Linked DNA regions of Homo sapiens. The protein of the gene in region 1 purifies or fractionates together with the protein of each later gene. This does not show direct contact. Each region holds a gene or a part of one and is shown in the gene's direction. Other genes may lie near its edges.

Region 1 (3,623 bases):
ATGATTTTATAAAGAGGAGTTTCCCTACACATGCCCTCTCACCTGCCACCACGTAAGACGTCCCTTTGCTCTTCCTTTGTCTTCCACCATGATTGCGAGGCCTCCCCAGCTGTGTGGAACCGAGTCCATTAAACCTCTTTCCTTTATAAATTATCCAGTCTCGGGCATGTCTTTATTAGCAGTGTGATAACAGACTAATACAGGCTGCTATAACAAAATCTCACATACTGGCTGGCTTAAACAGCAGAAATTCATGTTCTCGCAGGTCTGGAGGATGGAAGTTCACCATCAAGGTGTTGTCTGGGTTGTTTCTTCCCAGGCCCCTCTCCATGCTTTGCAATGGTCGCCCTCTCTCCATGCCTTCATATCATCTTCCTCCTGTGCATGTCTGCATCCAAGTGTTCTCCTTTTTTGAGATGACGTCTCACTGTGTTGCCCAGGCTGGTCTTGACCTCCCGAACCCAAGTGATCCTCCTGTCTCAGCTCCCTAGTAGCTGGGATTACAGTTGTGCCACCACACTCTGCTTAAATTTTCTCTTCTTGTGAAAACACCAGTCATATTGGATTAGGACCTGCCTTAATAACCTCATCTAACCTTAATTACCTCTTTGAAGGTCCTGTCTCCAAATACAGTCACTTTCCAAGGTCCTGGGGATTGGAACTTCAGTATAGACACAATTCAGCCCATAAGAAAACTGTAGCTTGAGAGTCCTGGAAAAAAATTGTGGAGAAAGTCCCTCCTCTAAATTCTTCCTGCCATACATGCAGGTGGGGGGTTGTCTCCATCACTCACAGATGACAAGGAGAGGAAGGAAAGAGGGAGAGGAGGAGCAAAAAAAAAAAAAAGGGGAGGTGAGAAGAAGGAAGAAGAGATAATTTAAGAAATTATAACCAACTACCGGTGACTGCAGAAAATTTTCAAGCTGGTGATTTAAGGAGGGATGATATGGAATATAGGCTTTTAGGTAATTTTTGATATTAAGGGTATCTCATGTATTAACGGGGCTCCTATTTGTTTTACATTCTTGGATGGGACTCCCAGGAAAATTTTAATCAGAGATGACTGTTCTATGAATCTGTGCAGCCAAAGGCAGCATTATACACCACAACTGCTCACCAGACTTTGGCAGGATGTCTTACCCAGTTTATTTAATATTAAACAAACTAAAATGCAACTGAGCGGTCACCACAGCTGAATAATATTGAGCTCCATTTGGGGTTTGGATTTAAACACTGATGCCTTGCCTTTCAGCAGAATCGACTCTGTCCAGCACATGGTAGCTGATATTCAGGAATTCTTTTTGTTCAGTTCCACAATAATATGAACCACAGTAGGCTCATTTGGTGCTAATCTGAGCATAATAGGCAATGTTACAGCCAGTCTTCATTGTAATTTAGCAGCAATTAATGTGCAATTATAACCTGTTACCAAAAATTGAAAGCACATTATATAGATGGAAATTGTCTTTTTGGCTTCTTAGTTTATGGCTGGTTTTAGGGTGTTTTACTGAAAGAAGCAATTACTAAAAGAGGACTTTTAATTGTTAATGAAATGTTTATCTTTCTTTGTTCCCATGTGGATTTCCACATTTGAATAAGGTTAATAAGGAAGACATTAAGTTAAACCTACAAGCCTTAGTCGGTATCCCAAGGTGCAGCTGGGAGCCCCAGGTTTCCCCCACTCCATGTCCAAAGCTGTCTACTTCTTTTCATCAGGACCCTGGGTCCCTATACACGGAGAGGAGAGGAGGGGGAGATATCAAAGCAAGACAGGATGGCTGTTTCTCTTTCTCACAACACTGAGAATACTCCAAAACTTGTCTTTTCTCTCTCTTCTGGCTTTATGTGGAAAGTATGTTTCCTCACCAAGACCTCTATACCCTTGTTCTCAAACAAATTTTAAGCCTAAGAAAACAAATTGTGTGTTCTCTGGGGATGTGAGCATCATTCATTTGCCTGAATTCCCATCTAAGTTTCATCCCTTCCCTTCTATCAAGTCAGCTACCATCAAGCTACGAACCTGCTCCGTCGCTTTTAAACCTAGACACTTACATGTTCAGGGCTGTTGTCACATCATTGACTTCGGCCTTTCCCAAAAGTCAATAACAGAAACAAATGACAAATGACTGAATTTTAGCAACTGTGATTCAGAGATCATTTTAGAGTCTACTTTCCCAGGTCTCATCTTACCTGACTTTCACAACAGTCCTGTAAGTTAGAGAATGCAGTAGTAATTGGAAACTGAAGCCCAGAGGGGCTAATTCATCTGCCCACATTTCCACAGCTAATAAATGTCTGTGAAATAAAACTAGAGCTAGAATTTTCTGTATCCAAATGCCATGCCCTTACCATTGCCAACAGTGTGTTGCTGCATCATTTGCAAAAACTAAAATTGTTGAAACCCTCCATCATATGCCATCTGGTGTCCTTTGATATAAGAGCCACAAAATCAAGTGGGAAAAGTAGATTTTGGAGTTAAATCTTCCCTCATAGCTCCAAGAATCTGAGCAAGTTATTCTTTGAACTCAGTGTTTGTTGTTGATGTTGTTAACTTCTGTCTTGCAGAGTGTGATGAGCTAAGAATTAAATTAGATAATACAATTAGGTCGTAAGTGTAAAGTAGGTAGCAGAGTGTATGACACACAGTAGGTCCTAAAATGTTTCATTCCCATTTTGGTGTCCTTTGATACGAGAGCCACGAAATCAAGTGGGAAAGTAAACTTCGGAGTTAAATCTTTCCCTAGTAGCTCGAAGAATCTGAGCAAGTTATCCTTTGAACCCAGTGTCAGTCACATTTTAGGACCTACTACATGCCATACATTCTGCTATGAATAATTCATTGCTGTGTTGTCAGAGAAAATGGTGTTTACTTATTTATTTTTTTTTATTTTGAGACACAGTCTCACTCTGACGCCCAGGCTGGAGTGCAGTGGCATGATCTCAGTTCACCACAACCTCCGCCTCCCAGGTTCAAGCAATTCCCCACCTCAGCCTCCCGAGTAGCTGGGACTACAGGCACCCACCACCATGCCCGGCTAATTTTTGGATTTTTTTTTTTTTTTTTTTTTTTTTTTTAGTCGAGACGGGGTTTCACCATGTTGGCCAGGCTGGTCTCGAACTCCTAACCTCAGATGATCTGCCTGCCTTGACCTCCCAAAGTGCTGGGATTATAGGCTTGAGCCACCGCACCTGGCCGGTGTTTATTTTTTAAGTACACAAGGAGAACTATATCCCTCCATTCTTCTTTTGGCCTGGAAAAACTGGGTAAAACGTAAAGCTAGGATTTATGTGCACTTGCAGTGATGTTTCGAGTACAGTTTCTCCTCTCCACACTCAACTCTTCTTTCTTCACTGTGCACTTTATCTCTCTGGATTTTTATTGTACCTTCACTCAGATCCCTGAGCAGGCAGGGCACACTTTTAAAAATCCATTCAATTGCTTAATAATTTTGTGAACCCTTGGAAAGAGTACAAAGATAGTATGAAATAGTGATGTCATGTCCGAAACCAGAGAAGTGCTCCATTTTGTCTCAGGAATGGCCTATGCAGGATGGATGGGGGTTGGAGAAGGAACCCCTTTTCCCACCCAACACAGGTGTCTCTCAGGACTCTGTCTCTTTTTT
Region 2 (3,623 bases), on another chromosome or scaffold:
GGTTTGACTATAACTTTAAAAAATATTAGATGGTGTTTACGATTTTTATTGTCTATCTGTCCTTTTAGCCCACTTCTCTCTCCATTCATTCAACAAACATTGTTGATCTGCTGGGAGCCCAGGCCCCATTCTCAGTGCTTAGAAATGATCAGGAAAGAAGAAATAGCCCCTGCCTCCTGGGGCTTACATTCTAGTAGTGGTGTTGACAGAAAATAAACAAATATATTCTTAAATAATATACTTTCAGAGAGTACGCTGAAAATTGAAGGTCAGTACCACAAAAAACGAATACCATTTAATCCTTTATGCGGTATAACCCATTTCCATTTTAAAGCCCTTTCACAAAATGCTGTCTCAATATCTCATGGTGGTTTTTAAACATCTGTGTAATAAGGACAACCATGATCAAGTCTGTTTCATATACAGGGAAGTGGAGGTCCGGAAAAGCAATGGATGAGTCAGTTGTTGAGTGCCTTGTGTGTGCCAGTCATTAAGATACAGAGTGAATAAGACAGCCCTCGCCAAGGGACTGACAGTCTGGCAGGTGACGCACCCTCCAACAAATGAGCCATGAGGTTACTTGGTGAAACCGTGATACAGAGGCACGAAGACAAGCACAGATGAGGCTGGAGCGTTTGCCTGAGGGTGTATCTTTAAGCTGTGATATTAAACCAAGGTTAAAGGATAAATACAAGTTGGCCAAGTGGAAATGGATGTGGTAAGGGAAGAACATTTGGAGCAGTAGAAATGGCTGTGCAAAGGCCCTGAGGCTCAAAGGAGCATGGCCTATTAGAGAAGCTGAGAGATGGCCAGTGCGGGTGGAGCAGGGTGGAATTAGATCAGGCTGGGCCTTGCTCCTACCCTTTTCCCTGTGGAAGAGCTGCACCTCCCCAAGGCTGGGACTAGAGTCGGGCAAGAGAGGCACCCAGGGCACAAAGCGTAAGGAGGCCCTACCCACTCACCCCTCTTGCTTGATGGTCTTGTCCTGGCCTTTCCCTGTCAAAGGGGTAGGAAATTGCCAGCCTGTCAACCTGGCCTAGGGACACTTCCGTGGAGATGTGGATAATGTGAGTTTCTGCCCAGATAATGTGAGTTTCTGCTCGAGGCAAATCTAGCTTCCACTTAAGAGTCTGTGGTCTGGTAACAGAAGTTGGTGATCAGCTCCTCCCTTTATGGGAAGAGATGAGCAAAATGAGGAAGTGTCAGGGAGGAGATAGCCCAGGACACTGGAGAGGGGAAGGAAGGGCAGACAGAACAAGATCCCTATGGCAGTGAGAGCTGACTTCACCCTGCACAGGCAGCTGGGTGTGCCTGTGAGATTTTTGGCATGTGTGTGTGTCTGTGTGCACTCGTGTCTCTGTGTATGCAGGTGTGTGCATATATATGCATGTGTGTGCATGCATGTGTGCACATGTGTATATCTGTGTGTCTGCATACAGAGGTATGCGTATGTTTACTTCTTACAAAATTGTCTGAAAATCCTCCCTTCCAGTTCTGGCTGAGCTGGTTACAAAGAGGCCTTTCTTGATTGGCAAAATCTCTGATAAATACCTATTCCTGTGAAATGCAAAGAAAGCTGAGCCTGTGTATAAGGAGAGTGACACAAACTAGGACAGAAAAAATGGGCAGGGAGGGGTGGGTGAGATCCAGGCTGGGTCTCCCCGTGGCTGGGGCTCATGTGGGCCTGGGGGTCAAGGATCATGCACCCCCGGTGCCCCGAGCTGCATATCTGTTCCTGGAGACCCCTGAGCTTGGCCGATACTCCCCTTTCACTTTAATAACCTTGTGTTTCCACAGACCGGCCCCCCTCTGGGAAAACCCCCCAGCAGCCTCCTGTGCCCCCCCAGAGACCGATGGCCGCCCTCCCGCCCCCACCAGCCGGCCGGAATCACTCGGTAGGCCTCCTCCCGTTCTTTTACAGTACTTGGTGTCCACTGCAGTTATTTCCTCCGCCAGAGAGAAAAATAAAACTATAAACATCTTTATCTCATTCTAATTTTGTAAGAAAAGATTATAATCTTTTCCCTCGGCTGGGGAAAGGCAAACCCAAGCATTCACACGTGTTTCTTTTTTGGGGTAAAATACTGGTGGTTTTTATTTACTTCCCACTATTTGAGAGAAGTGAAAACTGTAAAATAAACCCAAAGAGAACCGAATTAAGTCCGTGGCACCTACTGGTGTTGCCTGGGTACCGAGCCTTCCTCTCTCCTGCAAAAAGACTTGCGCCACCTTCTGGCCGACACCTGAAATTCCAAGGACAGGAGCCTTCAGACCGGAGGAGACAGAGGTAGCAAACCCCGTTTTCTCCTTCTTCGAGCATACAGCCCGGTCCTTGTGAATCTGATAAGTTCCCAGAGTGACCCTGAGAAGCTCAGACTAAGGACTTGATAGTTAGGAATGTGTTCCCTTCACAAGTTTATCTACAGATGTATATTGCTTTTGAGATTTGAAGACCTTCTTTTGAGATGCAGGATTCACTTATTTAATCAGCAAATATTGTCTGAGCAGCTACTATGTGCCAAGCAGAGTTCTAGGCGTTGGGGATAAAGTGTGAACAAGATAAATAAGGTCCCTGCTTTCATAAAACTCAACTAGGGCTAGTTATCAGACGGTAGACAGATGTCTGAAAGAGATCATTTGAGTAGTTATGTGTGGTTCGGGGGACGGAAGACCAGGTAACATGACGGTATGGGGGGGGGAGGTGACAAGGACCTGGGACAGAATGAGCCAGTTGTGGGAAGAGCCGGGAGAAGAACGTTCTAGGCAGAAGGAAACAAGTGTAGGGATGCCAAAGAGGGCATAACCTTGAGATTTTCCAGGAACTGCAAGAAGATTCTATGGTAGGGACCCCATGAGTACTGAGAAGGGATCACAGGAAAGAGTTGAGAGGGCAGACATGGGCCAGCTCAGGCAGGGCCTCGCAGGACATTAACGAGTTTCAATTTTGTTTCTAATGTGATAGGAGGCTTAGCAGGAAAGTGACATGCTCACTCTGCTGCCTGCAGAAAAGAGCTTGCGTGGCAGAGTCTAGAACAGGGAGCTCAGATAGGAGGCTACTGCGGTAGTTCAGTGAAGAAATGGACATGGATGTTTGTAGGCAGAACATGAAGATGAGGAAAAGTGAGCAGATCCAGACAGGTTTTGGGAGTGCCGGCTCTTGCTGATGTATTGGAAGTGCTTCCTAACGTTTGGATCTTTATGCAGCCACTGCCCCCACCCCAGACCAACCACGAAGAACCCAGCAGAAGCAGAAACCACAAAACGGCAAAGCGTGAGTACAAGGGCTGCTCTCTCTTGCCCTGTTCCCACCAGGCACTCCCCTAGCCCCGCCCAACCCCCAGCCGACTGCTTTCTTCTTTTAATTGATGTCAGCCTTTTCCCCTTCCAGTCCCTGCTCCTTCAATAGACAGAAGCACGAAACCTCCCCTAGATCGTTCATTAGCTCCGTTTGATAGAGAACCCTTCACACTAGGTGGGTATGATTCACATTTAATGCATAGTAATAATGATAAGCTGTTATAAAGTGCTTCCTGCATACGTTTCACATGTACCATCTCATTTAACTATGGCCACAATACTAGGAAGTGGAGACTAGTAGAATCATCCTCATTTTACAGATAAGG
Region 3 (3,623 bases), on another chromosome or scaffold:
GAATTTCTTGATAATTATATGAGTATATGTAGAGTTGGGTTTTTTTTTTTTTTGGCAGGGGGCGTGTAAAGGTGATTTGTTCGCCAAGAAAAGCACTTTTAGTAAAGCACAGATGTTAATCTAGATCATGGAAAAGTGCCACACACTAGATTTAGCACATAAGCAAGGAGTCTCTAGAACACTCAGAAGAAAATGAATGAATCCATGAATGAATGGACAAGTGAGAGCCCAGAGCAGCTGAAGCCATGAAGTGCTTTGGAAAGAGAAGCGTGCCTGGGAAAAGAGAGTGGCTGAGTGCTAAGAGCAGGGTGAACACCATGGAAAACTTGAAATTGAAAACATCACAATTTTAATGAGAAAAAGCGCAACCCAAAGTGAAGAGCACCATTATAACAAAGGTGAGAAAAGATGCTCATCTTATGACAGAGTCTTGTTTCTGTGCAGTTATCAGAAAAAGTGAGCTAAGAGGTGTGATGTGCTTATATTGTTTAATCCTGATTACTAAATACCAAATGCGTTTTCTTCAAAGCTCTAAAGGAGAAGAAATGGAATGGGAACAAGGGGGAGGGTTGAGGGCAGGGAGGATATCCCACATTGTCATATTCCTTAGAGTAAGGTTTCAAAATATTATCTATTTCTCTTTGTGGAATCTTCCATAGCTTTCCATTTCTAATGTATAGCTTTCACTTTCCTCAAATCGAACTCTGGATCTCTCATTGACTAGAAGCTGCCACATGCCTTTTTTTATTTTTTATTTTTTATTTTTTTGAGACAAGGTCTTGCTCTGTCACCCAGGCTAGAGTACAGTGGTGCATTCATGGCTCACTGCAGCCTTGACCTCCCGGGCTCAAGCAATCATCCCACCCCAGCCTCCAGAGTAGCTAGGACTACAGGCACTCACCACTGTGCCTGGCTAATATTGCATATTCTTTTGTAGAAATGAGGTCTTGCTTTGTTGCCCAGGCTAGCCTCAATCACCTGGCCTCAAGCAATCCTCCTGCCTCAGCTTCTCCAATTGCTGGGATTACAGGCCTGAGCCACCCATTGTGCCCAGCTGCTGCCACCTGTCTTGGTTAGCTCGTTGAGTTCTTCCTCTTCTTAGCAGTTTTCACACAGATCTTTTCACATGCTGGGAAGGAAGTCTCTAGAAAACCCCACAGATAGCCTCATTCCTCCACCCCCACTTCACTCCATGTAGACAATAAGCTTTCAGTTTCTAACATCATGTTGAGTGTAGAAAAGAAATTTACCACCCAGGAGCGTGTGTCTGTGTCTGTCTATGTTTTCGTGTTTGTTGGGAGTGACACGAAGGCTGAGGGAAAAAATAAAGCATAACATTTCTATTTTTCGCTTGACAAACAGTATCTTTCCCAGACATCAAAGATTTTTATTTCAGACTTCAAATGTCCTTAGCAAAATAAAGTTTTTGTTGGGGTGTACATGAAAATAGAACAACCATAAGAAATAGGCCGGGCGCAGTGGCTCACGCTTATAATCCCAGCACTTTGGGAGGCCGAGGCAGGCGGATCAAGAGGTCAGGAGATCTAAACCACGGTGAAACCCTGTCTCTGCTAAAAATACAAAAAATTAGCCAGGCGTGGTGGCGGGCGCCTGTAGTTCCAGCTACTCGGAGAGGCTGAGGCAGGAGAATGGCGTGAACCTGGGAGGCGGAGCTTGCAGTGGGCCGAGATCGCGCCACTGCACTGCAGCCTGGGCGACAGAGCGAGACTCCGTCTCAAAAAAAAAAAAAAAAGAAAAGAAAAGAAAAAGAAATAGTAGCTGAAATTTAGGTCTCTCTTTGAGGTTGGAGGAACAGAAAAAATGAAAGAACTTATATTGTATTATGAAGTGTACATCAACTATTAGCCTAAGAACCAAATAAGCCACTAATAAGATATCTATGAAAACATTTTTCAATTATCTACAAGTTCGTTAGTCAAAATGTAAATTCCTGAAAAACTGTTTTCTAATTTGGTATTTTCAGGTCATGCAGGCTGAGTGAATTATCCTAAACAAATGTAAGTTAAATTTGCTATAAAAAATTGTAAAATAGAATAAGAAAAATAAGTGGTTTTAGGACCATTTGTTGTTCTGTACTATCTACATCTCACTCTATATTCTCTACATCCTATCGCCATTCTATCCACATCAAGAACTCAAAAACATATAGCAAAACAAACCTCAGAAACACATAGAAACTCATATATATTTATATGTATGTATTTATACTAGAGACAGGCTCTCGCCACGTTGCTTAGGATGAACTCAAACCCTTGGGCTCAAGCGGTCTTCCCACATCAGCCTCCTGAGTAGCTAGGACCACAGGAATGCACTATCATGCCTGGCTAGAAAGTCGTATTTAACTTCCTTATCCATTTATGCTTAAGCCCTCAGAGGCCATGGCAAAGTCAAAACTATTTGTACAGGAGCTATTTTGTAGGATAACCAGGAAAAGAACATTGAAGGTTCGAATTTGTAGAATGATGATGATTGTCCCGCTCCTGATTCTAAAAACAGGGGGTACACAAAAATCCAACTGATGCACATGCCTTATAGAGAATACAAGGCGCCAGCATTTGGGAGGTGGACCATCACCATCAAAGCTTTACTACTTGCTAGGCTATCTTGCTTCTTCTGCTCTAATTCACTCTGGAAGAGAGAACACAGTAGAAACAGGAGAAGGATCCGGATCATCAGTGCTCGGAATAACACCAGACCAGGAGATAATGCACAGCGATATCTGTGGTGGTTTTTCTGCCAAGGTCCGAGGGGACCTGGCGGGGCACACACACCACCCAGAAAGTCCCCATTTAAGTCAGGTGTTTCCTTCCACATGACACCTCACAATGCAAGGCCATAGCAGACAGGGCATCGCTGGGGTTGTTGCAGTTCCACCTCCACCTTCACAAGTTACTGAAAAACATACAGGGGTTGTCACAATCAGGGCTACCACCGCTGCTTCCGCCACCAGGTCCTCCTACCCATGCCTTCGCCCAGAGCCTGCAGCAAAGGGCTCCCGCCCCAAGAACTTAATTTGCGGCGAGAGTCAAGTTCCCACATCCTGTTGAAGAGGGGCCTGGTGCTCTCTCCAGCCTCCGAGGCTCAGCCCACTGGAATGCATCACAGCCCATTTGCAATGAAATAGATATTCAATTGGCAAGTGCTTAAATCACAACTGCAGGTCAACAAAGGAGCTAAGAAAATCATCTCCTCCACTCCCATCTGTATGACCAATCAAGGTGAAATTTAAGTAAACGCAGTCCATCAGCCAGTACGTTCAATGCATATTATGGAAAGAGATGCGCCAGGATCAGGGATGTGTCTGCTTGTTTGCCGGGGAGGGAATTGCTGTTGAGGAGGAAAAATAAAACCAGGTTCCTGCTTTTACATCTCCTTAGGGAAACAGAGAACACACATGTAAATTATAATTCATTAAGAATCTAAATAGGCCGGGTGCGGTGGCTCACGCCTGTAATCCCAGCACTTTGGGAGGCTGAGGCAGGTGGTGGATCACCTGTGGTCAGGAGTTCAAGACCAGCCTGGCCAACATGGTGAGACCCCATCTCTATTAAAAATACAAAAATTAGCCAGGCGTGGTGGTGCATGCCTGTAGTCCCACCTGC
Region 4 (3,623 bases), on another chromosome or scaffold:
CTTCCAGACATGGAATGAGTAGCCGAAGCAGATGTTTGGAGGTTTGGATCCCATTTGTCTGCCATTGCCTTTCTAAGGAGTAGAACCAATGACTGTTCCTCTAGATTTACTATTTTTTTGCTTGCTCAGCATTTACCAATCAAAATCCAATGCCAGAGTTCAAATGCAACTCTAGTTTTAAAGCTAACAAGGAGTTAGTGGGTTATTTTGGGTAGATATGTAGCTACCTAGATGAAAAATTTTGAATCTATAATTTTAAATTATGTATTCTAAAAAACTGTTGTATTTTCTCATTATTTATACCCTTTTAAGAATGCTCTTTAACTTTTCATATTTCTATCTGCCCTCCTCCGCCTCCCTTAAATAGAAATGACTACGATGATACCATTCCAATCTTGGATGCACTAAAAGTCACCGCCAATATTGTGTTTGGATATGCCACGTAAGAACATTTGATGTTTACGTTGAAGTTTCCTTTATTGTTTGATGTCTTTTTGTTTTTGCTTTTTAGGAGCAGGGGTCTTAACTCTGTCACCCAGGCTGGAGTGCAGAGGCGCCATCATAGCTCACTGCTCCTGGGCTCAAGCGATCCTCCTGCCTCAGCCTTCTGAGTCGCTGGGATTACAGGCATGTGCCACTGTGCCTGGCCCCTGAGGGTTTTTTGATTATAGATTAGAGGCCTAGAAAATACCTATAGACATGTAGGCATAAATTTACCTCCTTGATATTCTGCGTAGAAAATTTTAAATGATCGACTTTAGCATTCCATATCATGGTATCTTAATTATTAAGCCCAAATTGGGCATGTAATTCCTGCTTAAAGATTAACTCTTTAATTATCAATGTCATGTGAGAGGCAGAAGAGAAAATGAAGCTTATTGGTGTATACAGAAGTCCCATGTGGCAAGTGTTTGCTTTTCTAACATTTTCTTTTTAAAAAATTATTTTTATTGGATATTGACAAGTTATAATTGTATGTATTTATGGGATACAAAGATATGCTATGATGTACGTATTCAATGTGGAATGATTGAATCAAGATAATTCACATATCACCTCAAATACTTATCTTTTTTCCTAACTGAAACATTGTACCCTGTGACTAACAGTCCCCACGCTGTCCCCACCCCCCCCCAGCCTCTGGTAACCACCATTCTGCTGGGTGCTTCTCTGAGTTCATTTTTATTAGCATCCACATATAAGTGAGAACATACAGTATTTGCCTTTCTGTGCCTGGCTTAACTTCTTTTTCTATTTTTAAGGTGTCAAGGAGCAGAAGCTTTTGAAATCCAGCATTCTGGATTGGCAAATGGAATCTTTATGAAATTTTTAAAAGACAGATTATTAGAAGATAAGAAAATCACTGTGTTACTGGATGAAGTTGCAGAAGGTAAAATAAAAAATAAAGAGAAAAGTACTCAGAAAAAGGAGAGCAGGGGAGACACACCTATTCAGGGTTCCCTCTCTGGTGATTGTTTTATTCTTATTATGTGGGTTTGGAATTAGTACCTACTTTATAAAACAATTTTTATATTAATATAACGTTCAGCAACACTTCTGCTATTTAATGTCATCTTTCCTTCCCTTTTGACCTAGCTCTCCACCATCTGTGCAGCATTACTCAGACTACAAGGCTAAGCCTCGGCACAGTCATTAATAAAGTTGAATTCTCAGAGCTCTACTTTGCTTCTATGCCCAGTGCCTTGGTACTGGCAAATCTCCCTATTTGAGGGTGGGTGGGTGGCATGGAGGGGTGGTGGGGAATTGTCCAGTGAGCAGTCTCTCCCAGGATGGGAGAGAGAAAACTTTACAGAAATTTTTAGACACTGCTGGGAAAAGCTGAGTTCATTTTTTTCCCTGATGAACTTAGTAGTTTTTAAATCCTGATTTAAGGATGTGATCCTAGGGGGTCTAATGCCACATCTTCCATTTCTATCTGTTCTCCCTGCCTGCTGGTATAATGCTGTGCATATGTCAGATGCTGAACAAGTACCTATTATTTCAGTAGATTGCACTGTGTTTTTTGAAAAAACATTTTATAAGCCATAGCAAAAAGAAGGTAACTTGGCCAGGTATGGTGGCTCAAGCCTGTAATCCCAGCACTTTGGGAAGCTGAGGCAGGAGGATCACTTAAGGCCAAGAGTTCAAGACCAGCCTAGGCAACATAGCGAGACCCTGTCTTCAAAATAAAAAATAAAAATAAAAAAGAAGAAATTATTTTACAAACTAGCACCACTAGAAAATGGAGTTTCATGGATGTTCCAGTGATGGCAGTTTGGGTATAAGGTGTTTGACCAACTGTCAGCCATATTTATTTTCATGTTTTTATCTGTGTAGCTATTTTAGATCACTTGACTTAGCCACTTTTCCATTTAACATAACCAGCCAGGGCTTTGGACTTCCTGCCACCCTCCCGCTTCATCCAGAGAAGTTCCACTTTTATTTGTTTTCTACATTAGGCTTCTTCTGAAGCTTACATTTGAAGGAAAGGCTCTGCTGCTTTAAAAAAAAAAAAAGAAAGAAAGAAAACCTTTGGATTATGTCAGTTATATTCAAACTGAGATCCAGTAAGGTGCTCCAGAAACTCTACAGTGTTTTATTTCAATTTCGTTTTTAAGTCCATTTTAACTATTTTAAAACTTAATAAAAAGCACCATGCTCACTCACATATGATATTTACCAAATTGTCATAGCAATGAATGGCATCCCGATATGTGCTGTGAGGATATTTGAACTTCTTATAAACATCTTAGACAGTTTTGCTTTTCGCTGATCTTTTTCAGTCCTACCATGTCTGCTTAACCAGAATTGCCCAGGCAGGAAGACCCTGTAGTGTACATGGAGCACACTCAGCTCAGTGCCGTGCACATTGTGCCCTTCGTGGGTAACGGCCCACTCATTGTACAAAATAAGTAAAGGCCTAATAGTATCATGATAAATAATACAGTTAAATCTAGCCCTTATTTTGAGTTTTGGATGCTTTGTGTCTGACCCCTGTCTTAGTAGTAAAGAGCAAAAGTAGTTGTATGAAATTTTTCACAAGTCATCCAATTTTGAAACAAAACTTTGCTGTTTCTCCCTTTGGATCTTCCAGATTACTTAATTGAAACTCATTCCATGGCTGGGCATGGTGGCTCACACCTGTAATCCCAGCACTTTGGGAGGCTGAGGTAGGAGGATTGCTTGAGCCCAGGAATTCAAGACCAGTCTGGGCAACACAGCAAGACCCCATCTCAATTTAAAAAAAAAATTATTTGGGGCCAGGTACAGTGGCTCATGCCTGTAATCCCAGCATTTGGGGAGGCTGAGGCAGGAGAATCACTTGAACACAGAAGTTTGAGACCAACCTAGGCAACATTGTCAGACCCCCCATCTCTATAAAAATTTAAAAAATTAGCCAGGCATTATGGTGTGCACCTGCAGTGCCAGCTACTCGCGAGACTTAGGTGGGAGGATTGCTCGAGCCTGGCAGTTTGAGACTGTAGTAAGTATGACCACACCACTGCTCTCCAGCATGTGTGACAGAGCAAGCCCCATCTCAAAAAAAAAAAAAAAGAAAATTCCAGAGGGAGAAAAGTATTCACAGATTATAAGCCAAGCAGTTGAAGGGGAAAATAAACATG
Region 5 (3,623 bases), on another chromosome or scaffold:
AAAAATGATCACTATTTCTTTTTTCTAGATAAGAAAGAAAATCTGTGGATTCTTAGTAAATGGAGAAGTGAGTGCCTTCTCTCCTAATGTTTAAATAATAAGTGTAAATATGGAAATCAGATCACCCTTTAAGCTGGATAACCTCGTGCAAGAGAATGCTTTTAACATATGCTGATTTGCAAGCCCCAGTAAAGGAAGGCTGCTTGACTCTGTAGTCAGATCTTGATTCAGATCCAGCTCCACTGCTGACAGAGTTGAGATATCTCCTGTAAAATGAGATAGAATTACACTACCTGCCCCGTGTTGGAATTAAATGAGATAGCGAGTGTAAAAGTTCTAACACACTGCGTGAAGCTTCATGTGCGAAAATGCGTATTGCCTGATCTCCCTGCATCCCTTCTGGCTTTTGTTTCTTCTTTCCTCTGAAGATTATGTAGGTACCCTGCCCAGTACCCATACGTTTAGTGTTTGTGACCAAAAGGATTTCGTATAATGTATCAATAGAGAATGCTTAATGTGTTTGTTTTGGATAAAATATCCCAGCATCTTAAATTCATTGTCAGATTATACATAAAACGCTTAATTGGCTGTTTTAAAACATTAGAATTTTGATCTTCAACCATAGTTTGTTTCTAATCTCCATAATCTCCCCAAATATTTTTCTAAAGATTCAAGTTAAATATAAATAGTTTCCCAATCTTCAGTGAATTCTGTCTTTTAGGGATTGACTGTGGGAGTGGTCTCTAAGATATAGTATTTGAAATTTAAAGTTAGAAGAATACTTCTGTAATCTACCTTGAATAGGTATTTTAAAATAGCTTAATTTCTGAAGAAAAGTTTTTAAATATTTTAATATTGAAGGTTATTTTAATATTTTAAAGTAACTTTAGTTAATCTGTAATTTTTAAAATACTTTGATTTGGTGTGAAATTAATGATTTTCTCGTGTATAGTTTATCTGTGTGCCTTATAATAAATGGACCTTGTGTCCAGTTTATTATAATTAAGAGTGTAAATCCATTTGTTAATTAGTAAATCTTACACATAGCACACGATATAGGTTGGTACTTATTTAATAAGTACTAAATTTTTATATAGATGCTTTATACTTTAATAATATTTATATTTACAGAATTTAATTGATATTTACTGAATTTAATATTTTAATTATTAATTATCTTAGTCGAGATGAAATCATAAGCATATGAGTTAAAAATATTAGCTCCTTTGTGAGGTGGAATACCATATTTAAACATTGGTGTATGAAGGCAGGTAATTTACTTCATCATTATTTTAACAAGTGATGTTGATAAAAGCCAGAGGAACAAACATGGGTGAAAAACATATTAATTAATCAAACTTCTAGTAAATACCAACCCGGGCATGTCTTTTTATGGTTGTCTTGAATTAATACTAATTTTACTTCCTTACACAAAAATACAAACTTCAAAAACAAAATAAACAAGAAAACATGAAAACATAAAAAGGAAACAAAGCAAAAACAAAACAAAAACCTTTAATATATGGACTTAAAAAAATTCTCACCATTATTAAAATTATATGCTTGAGAAAGGTTTTCAGTAGTGGTCAGTAAGTTTATACTGCATGAGCTGGACATTTTTACTTTGTTACTTGCGTGACCAGCAGCATGCATGTGCAGGTTGACGTGGATTCATTTGAGGCATGATTTGTGACACTTGGAACAAAGGGCTGCTTCCCATTCGACCTGGTAAAAGAAATTGTAACTTTTGGGCTTAATAAAACAAGCGGCTCTTGCATTGACTAATACTATATTTGCCTGTTTCACCTCTCGTCCTCATCCTTAGCTGTCCATCTTCTACATAGAAATTGGAATTATATTTCTAAAATTCAGATCTATATGTCATTTCTTCTTAAAGAAAAAAAAAAAAACAACTTTTGAAGGCGTATGAGATCAATAGAGTGGCAGTAATGTAAGGGATAGAAGATTGGCCTGTAAAATCAGACTTCCTGGCTGGGCGCGGTGGCTCATGCCTGTAATTCCAGAACTTTGGGAGGTGGAGGCGGGCAGATCACCTGAGGTCGGGAGTTTGAGACCAACCTGGCCAACGTGGTGAAACCCCGTTTCCACTAAAAATACAAAAATTAGCCGGGCATAGTGGCTCACACCTGTTATCCCGCCACTCTGGAGGCTTAGGCACGAGAATCGCTTGAACCCAGGAGGCAGAGGTTGCAGTGAGCCGAGATCGTGCCACTGCACTCCAGCCTGGGTGATAGAATGAGACTCCATCTCCAAAAAAAAAAAAACAACAACAACAACAACAGACTTCCCATCCTAAGTTAAAATACCCACTGTTCTTACTGTGTTCTTATTTAGTTACTTGCACTTTGTGTTCTTCAGCAAGTTCTTATGATTTTTGAGGCTTAGTGTATAAAATAGTAATTATAACATTATTTCATACAGTTTTTGAGAGGATTAAATGAGGTGTGTATTATAAAGTGCAGTGCCTGGTATATAACCTGCATTAATTTTCCTCCTACCATTACTATCGTTACTACTACTGCTATTGCTGTTAGTCATGGCTCACTTTATAATATGATTCCATCGTGTCTTTTGAGGCTCATTTTCAGCCATCACCTTTCAGTTTCTATGCCCTAGTCAAAGCCAGCTATTAGCGCTAATCTGAAAAGGCCATATGTTTTCATACTGATGACTACTACTTTTATTTTCCCAGCCCAGACTTCTCTTGAGTTTGATATTCACTTGGAAGTCTAGTTGGAATCTCAAGTATAATATAAATGATGTGGGTAAAATATAGCTATTTTTCCCTCTTCCCCCAACCTTCTTCCTACCCCTAAACCCTGGTGTCTCTGCTGGCATTCCCCATATCCATAAATGGCAGTACCCAAGCCAAAAACTTAAGATATTATTCTTGATTCTTTCCATTTCTCTTAAGTCCAATCCATCCCCACGTCCTGTTGCACCTTCACAATTTGCCTTGAGCAGTCCACTGCTCTTAGTCTTCGTTGCCACCTCTTTATTTGAAGCCATCATTCTCTTGCATGAAGTACTGCAGTAATTTTCTAAGTGGGCTGCTTCTTTTTCTTCTTGCTCCATAGAAGTTTTTTTTTTTTTTTTTTTCTTCACACAGCAGCCTGAGAATTATTTTAAGAGCCTATATTGGATCATATCATTTCTCTGCTTAAAATCTTCTGGTGACTTCCCATTCCTCTCAAAATCAAGTCCTCCATTCTGTGGCCTAAATGGCCCTGAATGAGCTTTCTCCTTCTCATCATTCTTCCCCTCATTCATCACATGTCAGCCACGAAGGCCTCTCAGTGTTTCTTAAACCCTCTGCACCCTTTTTTCTTCTAGGGCCTTTTGCACTTTCTGTACTCCCTCCTTGGGATATTCTTCAAATGTCTGGCTTGGCTAAACACTTTGGAGTTTGGCCCAAATCTCACTTCTCACTCAGAGGCCTAATCTGACCATCCTATTTAATATTGCAGTCTGTCATTTTACTCTCTTACACAGATTATTTCCTTCAAGACAATTGTAATTTGTGTATACCTGGTTTGTTTAGTTATTGCTTATTTATGGTATTTGTCCATTACCTGAATGTAAACTCCATAAAGGCAGAGGCC
Region 6 (3,623 bases), on another chromosome or scaffold:
TAAAATTGCTAGTTCTTTCAACTTCTTAATTTTTGATCTGTGTAAAAACCCTTCGATCTTTGTTCTGTCTAGTAACTCTTCTTGCCAAGCAAATACATAAAATTAGATGCTTCCCAATAAACATTTGTCACCAGACATGATAAATTATTCATAGTTGGAGATAATTTTATTAAACTCCAATGCTTTTATATCACTATCCATCTAACAACAACAGTCTTCTCCCCTGAAATATTTGTACATTGGTAGTGGTGGGTTAGGATGGGGATCAGGTGTTAGGGAGGTGACTCCAAACCAAGGCAGAAAAGGGATGTGATAAAATATAAATGTGGGGATAGAAAGGTTTGCTTCCTACTTGGAAACCCATGAGACTTCCTAAGGTGAAATGGTGGGATGTCTTTAACATCCTCATAAAAATATAGCACCTTGACTCTTCAAGCTGTACAGATGGTGCTCCTAAAGAGGAAGAAGTGTCAGACCTGACTAGTGCACTTATGTCACTAATAACTACAGTTGTAAAAAATCAACAAGACTTATTTGGTGAAATGATGGTATCGGAATGTGTAAAGCGAACAAAATGATCTAGACCAAGCAGCTTTTTAGAACAATCTGTCCAGTAGAACTTTCTGCAATGATGGAAATGTTCTGTAGCTATACTGTTCAGTATGGTAGCCAGCCACCAGCTATACATGTGGCTGTTGAGGACTTGAAATGTGGCAAGTGTGACTAAGGAACTGATTTTTAAATTTAACTAACTTAAATTTAAATGGCTACATGTGCCTTTTGGTTACCATATTAGATAGTGCACTTCTAGAATTTGCATTTCCCTGCTTCTTAATCACTCCTCTTCACAAGTAAGAGATAATTGCTATTCTGAAAGACCATGTGGCCTGTGAAAAAGGCAGACAAATACTTAACCTTGAGATCAAAAACATAAAAGAAGCAAAATAGGAAATAAGATACGTCCAGCTGAAAAGAACAGAATCTAAATGAAACTTAACATGAGTCAAATAATAAGATTGGACCTTCCATGGGTGACATCTCTTTTAAATTTGTTCTTGGGAATGTTCCATTTCTTCGCAACAGAAGATGCACAGTAAGCAGTCTTCTGGTACTGCCCCAGAATTTTCCTAGATATCTGTCATGTGTAAGCCTTGTTACTACTTATTTCATTGAAAAAGTCTATAATCTCCACCCCAACTCCATGAAACCTTTTCTTTTTTTTTTTTTTTAGAAGTTAATCTGGCATTTTCTACACTCAGGGAATTAATAACCACATAATTTGGCATCTACTTATTAGTTTCTTTTTTTAATAAATTAGAAACTTGAAAATGGGCATTATGATTTCAATCTCTTAAATGATTACAATATTACAAAAAAGTACTCATAATCTTTTTTTTTTGTCCCCTCAGATTCCTTTTTACCATGATATTCTTAAATTATTCACTTGCTTATTCATTACATAGGATGTTTCTGGTTTTTTCCCCCCAGCAGAAGATATTCTAGATTTTTCAAGTTTTCCTTTCTATATGAAAAGCCATTTTCATACAGAAAATATTTCATCAAGTTTAAACAATGAAACCAATTTAATTGCTTTGATACTTCTTTGTATGTTTTTATGTTCACAAATTAAATTTTTGCTAATAGTCACTTTTATTTAATGAAAATTAGTGATTTTATTCAGTATTTTATTAAAATACTAGGTAATTTGTGCTATAATTAAAAAATATATATTAGTATGGTTTTTGGAAAAAGTATATATCAATAGGAGGTAATAAGATGATAGGTTGGCATTTCAACTTTTAGAATAACATGACTTTGTAATAATTTATGTCTTCTAAATATGTATTTTTTAATAATTTAAATAATACTTTCTTCTCTCTAGATTTTTGCTTCAGTGTCTTGAGGATCTTGATGCCAATCTACGAAAATTAAACTCCCGTCTGTTTGTGATTCGTGGACAACCAGCAGATGTGTTTCCCAGGCTTTTCAAGGTAATTTGAAAAATATTTGCATAAAACAATCTTTTCTCAGATAATATTACATATTTGGTAAATAAAGTTTTTTGACTAATTGAAAATGTAGCGAATATAAGTATTTTCAAGTAAAAATTTTGTGGGTTTTTTTTCTTTATTTAATGAAAAAGCTATACATGGTAAAAATCAGACAGTGAGAAAATAGTTTACAATGAAAAGTTCAATCTTTCTTCTACCTTAAACTGCTCGTTGCCCTCCCAGAAGCAACAGCTACTACCAGTTTCTTATGTATCCAATTCCAGTTTCTTGTTTATCCAATTAGAAATATTCTTTGCATAAACAAGAATTTTTTGTGTGTGTATATATATATATTTTTGTGTGTGTGTGTGTATATATATATGTGTATACACACACACACATCCATGTGTTTGTGTCTGTGTTACTGTCCCCTTTGTTAAAAGTTAAAATGACACACTATACACACCATTCTCTGCCATGCTTTGTTCACATAACCATATCTTTTGGAAGTTGTTCCATATCATTTCCTCGGTCTTTCAGATGACTTCATAGTATTCCATTTTGTAGATGGCTATAATTTTTTAAACTAGCTTTCTACTGAACGTTTAATTATTTTCTCTGTAGGCCTTTTGCTAGTATAAATGCCAGTGAACTTACTTGTCCACATTTATGAATCTTTGCTCACATGGGCCAGTACATTTGTGGGATAATTCTTAGAAGACTTTCTGGGTCAAAGGATTGTAACAATGGACATTTTACCAATAATACAGAATTTGTAGTGCTTTTTTTTTTCTTTTTTTGAGATGGAGTCTTGCTCTTGTCGCCCAGGCTAGAGTGCAATGGCGCAATCTCAGCGCACTACAACCTCTGCCTCCTGGGTTCAGGTGATTCTTCTGCCTCAGCTTCCTGAGTAGCTGGGATTACTGGCGCACGCCACCATGCCTGGCTAATTTTGTACTTTTAGTAGAGACAGGGTTTCACCATGTTGGTCAGGCTGGTCTCGAACTCCTGACCTTAGGTGATCCACCGGCCTCGACCTCCCAAAGTGCTGGAATTAAAGGTGTGAGCCACTGCGCCCAGCACTGTAGTGCTTTTTAAAAAACTTAGTAGGATCTTAAAAATCTTTAAAAATGTTTAAGATACCTAATCTTATCTCTTCCCTTTTTTCCAAATGAAAAAATTAGGCCTAGAGAATAATTGAGTTGCCCAAGATCATACAACTAGCTCATGGAAATGCCCAGACCAGAAACTGAGTTTCCTCATTGCCCTTTTTGTATTCATCCCTTCCTATTTATTACTGTATTAGTCCATTTTCACATTGCTGCAAAGAAATATCTGAGACTGTATAATTTATAAAGAAAAGAGATTTAATTGGCTCACAGTTCTGCAGGCTGTACAGGAAGCATAGTGGCTTCTGGGAAGGCCTCAGGAAACTTACAATCATGGTGGAAGGGGAAGGGAAAGGGGAAGTAAGAACTTCACATGGCCAGAGCAGGAGGAAGAGAGAAGGAGCGGGGAGGTGCCACACTTTAAAAAAAACAAAAAACAAAAAAAAAAACAGATCTTGCAAGCACTCACTCACTATCAGAGCACCAAGGGGAAATCTGCCACCATGATCCAATCACCTCCCAC

The links.
Region 2: the proteins of PRKCQ (region 1) and LCP2 purify together in Homo sapiens (co-immunoprecipitation; one study listed by IntAct). This does not show direct contact.
Region 3: the proteins of PRKCQ (region 1) and FYB1 purify together in Homo sapiens (affinity purification with western blotting, with the first as the bait; one study listed by BioGRID). This does not show direct contact.
Region 4: the proteins of PRKCQ (region 1) and MALT1 purify together in Homo sapiens (affinity purification with western blotting; one study listed by BioGRID and IntAct). This does not show direct contact.
Region 5: the proteins of PRKCQ (region 1) and MEF2A purify together in Homo sapiens (co-immunoprecipitation; one study listed by IntAct). This does not show direct contact.
Region 6: the proteins of PRKCQ (region 1) and CRY1 purify together in Homo sapiens (co-immunoprecipitation; one large-scale study listed by IntAct). This does not show direct contact.

The regions. Positions count from the first base shown.
Region 1 is NC_000010.11:6,479,220-6,482,842, reverse strand, and holds part of PRKCQ (protein kinase C theta type), read left to right. Parts: intron 1-3,623. UniProt on the Homo sapiens protein: Calcium-independent, phospholipid- and diacylglycerol (DAG)-dependent serine/threonine-protein kinase that mediates non-redundant functions in T-cell receptor (TCR) signaling, including T-cells activation, proliferation, differentiation and survival, by mediating activation of multiple transcription factors such as NF-kappa-B, JUN, NFATC1 and NFATC2.
Region 2 is NC_000005.10:170,266,657-170,270,279, reverse strand, and holds part of LCP2 (lymphocyte cytosolic protein 2), read left to right. Parts: intron 1-1,797; coding exon 1,798-1,895; intron 1,896-3,204; coding exon 3,205-3,271; intron 3,272-3,388; coding exon 3,389-3,472; intron 3,473-3,623. UniProt on the Homo sapiens protein: Adapter protein primarily involved in signaling pathways within T-cells, as well as other immune cells such as platelets, mast cells, and natural killer (NK) cells.
Region 3 is NC_000005.10:39,209,453-39,213,075, reverse strand, and holds part of FYB1 (FYN-binding protein 1), read left to right. Parts: intron 1-58; exon of another isoform or gene 59-398; intron 399-1,984; exon of another isoform or gene 1,985-2,018; intron 2,019-3,623. UniProt on the Homo sapiens protein: Acts as an adapter protein of the FYN and LCP2 signaling cascades in T-cells. May play a role in linking T-cell signaling to remodeling of the actin cytoskeleton. Modulates the expression of IL2. Involved in platelet activation.
Region 4 is NC_000018.10:58,733,940-58,737,562, forward strand, and holds part of MALT1 (mucosa-associated lymphoid tissue lymphoma translocation protein 1), read left to right. Parts: exon of another isoform or gene 1-41; intron 42-367; coding exon 368-442; exon of another isoform or gene 443-448; intron 449-1,262; coding exon 1,263-1,390; intron 1,391-3,623. UniProt on the Homo sapiens protein: Protease that enhances BCL10-induced activation: acts via formation of CBM complexes that channel adaptive and innate immune signaling downstream of CARD domain-containing proteins (CARD9, CARD11 and CARD14) to activate NF-kappa-B and MAP kinase p38 pathways which stimulate expression of genes encoding pro-inflammatory cytokines and chemokines.
Region 5 is NC_000015.10:99,568,913-99,572,535, forward strand, and holds part of MEF2A (myocyte-specific enhancer factor 2A), read left to right. Parts: intron 1-28; exon of another isoform or gene 29-67; intron 68-3,623. UniProt on the Homo sapiens protein: Transcriptional activator which binds specifically to the MEF2 element, 5'-YTA[AT](4)TAR-3', found in numerous muscle-specific genes. Also involved in the activation of numerous growth factor- and stress-induced genes.
Region 6 is NC_000012.12:107,020,452-107,024,074, reverse strand, and holds part of CRY1 (cryptochrome-1), read left to right. Parts: intron 1-1,882; coding exon 1,883-1,991; intron 1,992-3,623.